2 linked regions of the Homo sapiens genome follow. The protein of the gene in region 2 purifies or fractionates together with the protein of the main gene of each other region. This does not show direct contact. Each region holds a gene or a part of one and is shown on either strand. Other genes may lie near its edges.

Region 1 (3,753 bases), on a different chromosome or scaffold from region 2:
GTTTTTGATTGGCTGGATAAGGGAAGAAAATGCAAACACAGCAATTAACCAAAGTACAGATTGTCAAAGTTTGTTTGTGTTTAAAAAGGAAAGGATTCCATTAAAACTAATGAAATATATTGCTTTTGTAACTTAAGGTTTTATTTTATGATTTTTCTATAAAACATATGAAGTCAAGTATTCATGTTTTGTGGTCCTTCAAGACACAATAATCACTGGCTGACTTTTTTTAGTCTTTTCTAAAGAGAAAAAAATAAAACATCAAAGATAAAATTAATATTTAATTGCAGATTTTGAGAGATCAAAATGTAATATATAAAGCCTAACTATGAAAGAAATATATTTCATCTAAACCAGTGTATGCTTTACCAGTTTATTACTTGAAGCTATAAAAATACTGCTGAAAATTTAGTTGCTCCCCAAAGCTCAATTTTTAAAAAAGGAAAGGTGTTATTCAATATTTTAAACATTCCTAAATTACTATCAACTAAATTGAATAAAATGTCAAACTATTTGTAAACACTTTGGCACAGATGCTAATAATAAATGCATAATCACAAAAGCCCAGAAAAACAATAGTGACATCCTACAGACATAAAATAACTTCAAATAATTTTCCACATAAATAGGGCAAAGTTTACATCTGTAATGAAGTTTAGTACACAATATTTTCATTTTAATGAAAACAAGAATGAATGTAGTTGTGATGTGGATAGATATTGAAAGTATTTATACGTAACTGCCATGCTCAGTCTAGTTTTTGAAAGTAAAAAGCCAAAAGGCATTATATTTAAATTCACCATGAAATTCTCTTAATGGGGTTAGCTTTAAACACAGTGAGGTATCCTATGATGAAAGAGAGACAGAAGAAAAGACAGGAAAAAAGATTACCATATTTGTATCCAGCCCACATATACTTTTAAGTAACATTATTGAAGTACTTCCTTTAGGAATAAAATGTCAAATAACAATTTATATTTTTTCTAATGGAAATCTCCACTTACCGTAGCTTCATTGCAAACTGTGCACTTAACCACATGCTGGTGAAGCTTGCCATCCAAATTGATTAGTGATTGGCACACACGGCAGTTTATTACTGGAATACCACTGGCGTCTGGACTGGCAATGGCTGTATATGGAGGTGGGAGCTCCGCTGAAAAGATATTAGTCACTGAATCAGAGTCTTGGAGAAATTACTATGGCTGGTTTGAGTATAGAGGCAATATAAGTAAAGAAGAAACAATCAAGATTTTCCCACGTTCTTTTATTTATTTTTCAAAGCTAGCCAATTTATCTTACTTTTAGAGCACAAACATCCATGAGACTCTTATCAAGTAAAATAATTCTTAACTCTGATAAAATCTAAATCATGTTTGCCTAGGTCTATCCCAATAACCCAGTTTCCTTTTACTAATCTATACTCAAAATGTCACTCCATTCCTATTAGTAAATTCATACAGTCTCTAACAGGAGAGTGGTAATTTATGCCTACAATAAAAATTTTACACAAGTGATCTGATTCCCAGGAAATAAAAATGGTCGATGAAAGCAAAGTTTTAAAATTGCTTATCCATACATATAAATTATGTAGCTGTCATGCTCTGTCTTTATATTGGAACCAGTATAATGACTGCTGGCTATGACAAGAATAAAACAAGGTGTTGGAGGAAGTCAAGAAGAAACAAAAATGAACCTAAGAAAACTAAACTTCTCAGCATGGAACAAAAATGGGAACCATGCTAATTTCAGACACAAAACAAAAATAAAGTAAATATAACAATTTTTAGTCTCAAAATTTACCTACCATTAAAAATGTAAGAAATGCACCAAAGTGTTTATGAGTAAAAAAATGTAGTATGTGGGATTAAAAACTTCAAAAACCATAACAACAACCACCACAAAAAGAATGGGGAACCAGATGAAACAAGTAGCAAAATGTTGATAACTGATGAATATAATGACATGGAAGGTCATAGTTTCACACTACTTTTGTGTATGTTTGAAAATTCCCATAATACAAAGACACACACACAGTGTTTTTTTTGAGAGTCCTAAGGTTGACTCAGTGAGTGAGTGAAGGGTGGAGGCCCACTTTCAAAATCAAGTATCTACCAGAAGTGTATATTTGTTACAAAAGTCTGAGAAAAGGAATCCTGATATACTACTCTGGAATGGGATTTCTAAAGGAGACTGCCTAACCCCTTTCTGTAACTATCTCAACTACAGGAATAGAAGACTTTTCCAAGGTAAAGTTTTGTCTTGGGACATTTAGAAAGGGCCACACTCTAACATATGATTGAAGCACGAAAGAGAACTGGTATCTCAAGAGGCTTCTGTAACACTATAAAATATAATCACAATAGCTAAGCATAATAAGAGCTATTTTTGAAATAAAGGTTTTCTATCCACTGTATTAGGTCCTAAACTTTGTGATATTTTAAAAAGAATTAGAGCATAAAACATTTTGGTATGTTTAAAATACACATATTTCTACCTGATCCTTGGGTTATAATATAGGATTTTTTTCAGACTGCTAAGGATTAGCAACAAGTGGTATTCGTTCAAATGATTCATAAGACAAATTTCTGCAGCAGCCAAGGCTCTGAAAGAGGCCACTTTGAAATGACGATATGCTTATGTTTCTGGGAGGCTTATAACAGAACACTGCCAAACACTGAAATTCAAAAGAAGCTGTACATGTCTTAAATTATAAAAATAATTTTAAATCCATGAAAAGAATTTGAGCGTGATCCAGAGTGACCTGTAATGTATTAATCAAGAAGAAAAAAACATGTTAAAGAAACAATGAGTCAACAATATACTTAAGGTCTTGCAATTTGCAGATTACTTTGTCAGATCTCAATAAAGACATTATTCTTGGGGAAAGAATATGTACCTCACTAGAAATTCAAGACACACTGCCTGGTATATGATAATGAATATTATTTTAATAATTATTTGCAGTAGCATTATTAACAAAAGTTGCTTCCTCTCTGGCCTTTTCCTTGAGTTGTACAGTAACATTACATAGTTCTCTCGTAATCCCAGGTCTCTATCTTACACAGTATGATAGAAAGGAAACTTAAATGCAAGACAGTTTTATAAAGAAAACAAGGGCATTAGGGGGAGAGGAGGAAGTGACATATTGCTACACTACATAAAAGGACACCAACCCATACACTCCTCAGCTTTGCTCAAAGAAATCTCCTAAGAAAATTTCAGAGGGTGATCTTAACAATCATTAAAAGGGCATTAGAGCCAGTAAAACCCTGTGAATTTTTCTTCTAAGATTTGTACTATATAATTTTTAATCTGCCAAAAAAAAAACGCCTTCAATGACAGAAATATGCTCAAATCTACTCTTTTGGAGGCTTGGGAAGTGGAGGGACATGGACAGAACAAGCAGTGAAGATTATAAATCTAATATAAGAGAGACCATAAGCTCCACGAGGCCAGGGGCACATCTGGTTTGTCCACAGCTACTTCACCAGCGCTTGTCATAATGCCTGGTCTATGATGATGCTTACTAAATGTTTATTCAATGGTTGAATTAATTAATAAATCAGCGAGTCACTAAAATTTATTAGACATATCTATTTGTCTTGGAAAAATAACACCAAGTATTAGGTTGCTGCAAAAGTAACTGCGGTTTTTGCTACGACTTTCAAATAGCAAAAACCGCAATTACTTTTGCACCAACCTAATACATTAACCCTACTCTCCTTGCAGAGGAGCTAAGGTTCTAGCAGGGGA
Region 2 (3,753 bases):
TAGCCTCAGTCTCCCACCTGGCCTGTGTCTTGCCAGCTGAGCTCCAGTTTTGACACACCATCAGTATAAAGTACCTGCCAAGGGAATTGACCTGGTTTGGCATCTTCTCCACCAACAACCCGAGTGAAGTCATTAAATGATTGGGTGCTTTGAGTGATGTTATCCAAAATGGTTTCAGCTTCAGTAGAATTTACATAGTCCACATCAGGAAAAACAGTCTCAGCACGGGTGAGCTTAGAAGTTTGTGAAACAGAAACTCTTCCACATGGAAATGGCACTAGAAAAATAGAAGAAAAATTAGTAACCTGATATTTCTCATTGGCAAATGGAACATGTATTACAAAAATTGAGATTGAGGCCCATCCTTGTCACTTCTGAGAAGCAGGCCCATCAGTATTTAAAAAAATCTAATCAGTGAATAGAGTCTCAAGCTAAAAGGTTGATTGCGTTATTTTCATGGACAGTTTTCAAATCCTTCATGAAAAGAACATTTGGCTCCGGAATTCATCATCTTTACGGAAATAGAATAGGTGTTCCAGAATCAAATTTGGTAAGACTTTTACAGAGTCTAATGACTTTGTGTTTAGTTTCTTTACTAAAAAGTCTTACTCCCAATTGCCATCCCTGAATGGAAGTCTTATGATTGATGCTTTGTAACTTTAACTTTCCAATTTGGTAAATGGGACTTCTGCTGCTTATGATTAAGAAGGTTTCTTTTGCAGACTAAAAGGCCTTCTAGATTCCAAGGTGCATTTTATATATTTTCTGGGGAGAGATCATTGTGATTCAATTATTTGGGCTTCAAATATTAGCCAAAGAGATTGCTAATATAATTATCACAGCCATATTCACCAGGACCTGCCCACCATTTTTCCTTGGGTTGGTTTATTTTCTAAAGAAAAATAATGTATTGATACACTGGGGACTACCAGAATGGGAATTTGTAGTCAAACAAAGTCACTTCACATTTCATTTTCATTTATCACTTTCCTTCAAGCCACATTCCTTGTAACAGACATTTCTATAGCAACCAGCTGCGACAAAGTATCATGAAGACAGCAAGTGGTTGAGAAAACAGGAAATTAGTTCAAAATACTTATGTATAAGTGTACACAATCAACAATGGCTACAGAAAAGGGACCTTTATCATTGAAAAGGCAGAAAAGCTTATTTTAAGTTTGGCCTACTTATTCTGCTAAAGCTAAGGCTATATTCAAATATAACACTTAATAGTTGGAGGTGGTTCTCAATTCTGTTTCTCTTTTATAGCATAGAAGAACTTGTAAGGGTTTAGCTAGTATGCCATCTGTCTATACTGGAAGTTAGGTTTTTAAGGTTAAAATACACAGACACACACCCACACACATATTCATGCTCCTCTCAAGGTAGACTAGCTTTGAGACAGTGTATGTGAAGAACCAGGCAGAAGAACAAGTGGGCAGGCCCTGAAGCCTTAGAGATTCTTCATTTTATTTGCAGGATATATATTCCTAGCTTCTGGTTTGTTGGGAACAGGCCTCCAAATCTGGCCATAAACTGGCCCCAAAACTGGCCATAAACAAAATCTCTGCAGCACTGTGATATGCTCGTGATGGCCTTGATATCCACACTGGAAGGTTGTGGGTTTACCAGAATGAGGGCAAGGAACACCTGGCCCACCCAGGGCGGAAAACTGCTTAAAGGTGTTCTTAAACCACAGACAATTGCATAAGTGATTTGTGCCTTAAGGACATGTTCCTGCTGCAGATAACTAGCCAGACTCATCCCTTTATTTCCCATAAGGAATACTTTCAGTAAATCTTATGACTGGCTTGCTGTCAATAAATATGTGGGTAAATCTCTGTTCGGGGCTCTCAGCTCTGAAGGCTGTGAGACCCCTGATTTCCCACTCCATACTCTATATTTCTGTGTGTGTGTCTTTAATTCCTCTAGTGCCGCAGGATTAGGGTCTCCCTGACCAAGCTGATCTCGGCACTGGTTCTTTCTTTAATTTCTTCTGCCTGGTATAGTGCTGAGACAGGTACTGAAACAGTTACAGAGAAATGGTGCACAATTTAATGTACCAATTAATAAGATATCAGGCTTTAGAAATGCAAAAGAAATTATATCTAGTTTGCTTCAAAAAAGCCCCTCATTTATCAAATATAATTGACCCTGCAGAGCCTAAATTTTTCAAAAAATAAAAGTGTCTACTGCTTTCATCTTTAGATAACAGCCATACGAACATGGAGTGGAGATGTTCTGAATACACTAATCAGCTGTTAAAATGGTGGCATGGTTGGCATGACTGGGAAACATTGTTTTGTTCACAGCCATATAGATTGTGCTGATCAGCCTAGCAGAACATAAAACAGTTCATTGCCGGAATCATTCTGACACCAAGTGTGTAAACTCAGCTTAAGACCCAACAATAAAAAATAACTTTCTCAGAGTAAACTAGCCAGCCCAGATAGAATCATGCTTCAAACTTACCGTCCTTATACTAGAAGCCTATCACTCAATTATTTGTGTATATTTTATGATATAGTATTACTACATTGATTTGACTTGATGAATTACAAATACATATGCAGAAATCACACAAATTAATTGCTTTGTGATATAAATGTTAGAGAAAAAAATTGGACAAATTGGACACAGAAAGAATTCAGGTTGTAGATGATTACATAGTTTATATTTAAAATATGATGCAATCTAGAAAATTAATTGGTCTAATTCAAGCTACTGATATTTTCTATGATTTCAAAAGGAAGCAGATTCAAGTAGGAATTAAAATTATGTAGGTTTGTTAAAATGCTGAAGTTTCAGATACAGATTTTCTTTAAAAAATCTTATTCAGATTATGACCTGCTGGTTCACAGGACTTCTGGTTTTCTGCAAGTCGATATCCCTCAGTACAGGAGCAAACCACCTTGTTATCAGCACTATTTTTACAAAACTGCTCGCATCTGCCATTCTTAATGTTACATGTTACATCTAAAAGAAGCAAAATAGACAGTAACAGCATCATTTAACATGCATTTCTAAAAAGTACATGGAACTACTGACTCATGTATGGGTCAAATATACATTGGGGGCATTCATGTTGCCCCCAATATACGTTGGGGAGAGAAATTTTGGAGCCTTGAAATAAGAGTGGAAAGAAAGGTAAAATAAACTTCTCAATAATGCATAAAAATGATGGTAGCACTATAATTGATTGGTTTAAAACTAAATGTTTGGATATTCTACTTTCACTAAATTATGAACTACAGGTTTAAAAACCCTATTTATTAATGTATAACATATATTCAAAAAATACACACAATTTTAGTGTAAGTTTTCACAAAGTAAATGAGCCTGTTTAAACACTAAACTGACCAATACATAGCACATTATCAATACCCCAGAAGATGCCCCCTCCCAATCATTCCACCCTTTTTCCTTTTTATAGGTTACCATTACCTGGACTTCTAACACAGTAAACAGTTCTTGCCAGTTCTTGAATTATAAACAGAAGTTCGCAATATGTACTCGTCTGTGTCTTTCATTTAACATTTTGTCTGTGAGATTAAACCATGTTGTTTTGTACAGCAGTAGTTCATTTACATTGCTGTGTAGTATTCCACTGTATTACTATTACAGCTTTTATTTATTCATTCTACTGTTAATGGATATTTGGTTTGTTTCCAGTTTTTGGCTCTTATGTATAATAGTGTAATGAACATTCTTGTATATATCTTTTGGTGACATAAACATGCCTTTTTACTGGCT

What was found. Proteins that work in one complex are often made in the same cells at the same time.
Region 1: the proteins of F9 (region 2) and PIP4P2 purify together in Homo sapiens (affinity purification with mass spectrometry; 2 studies listed by BioGRID and IntAct, with this or other methods). This does not show direct contact.

Annotation. Positions count from the first base shown.
Region 1 is NC_000008.11:91,020,252-91,024,004, forward strand, and holds part of PIP4P2 (type 2 phosphatidylinositol 4,5-bisphosphate 4-phosphatase), read right to left. Parts: intron 1,154-3,753; coding exon 1,005-1,153; intron 13-1,004; coding exon 1-12. UniProt on the Homo sapiens protein: Catalyzes the hydrolysis of phosphatidylinositol-4,5-bisphosphate (PtdIns-4,5-P2) to phosphatidylinositol-4-phosphate (PtdIns-4-P).
Region 2 is NC_000023.11:139,547,586-139,551,338, reverse strand, and holds part of F9 (coagulation factor IX isoform 1 preproprotein), read right to left. Parts: intron 2,977-3,753; coding exon 2,848-2,976; intron 278-2,847; coding exon 75-277; intron 1-74. UniProt on the Homo sapiens protein: Factor IX is a vitamin K-dependent plasma protein that participates in the intrinsic pathway of blood coagulation by converting factor X to its active form in the presence of Ca(2+) ions, phospholipids, and factor VIIIa.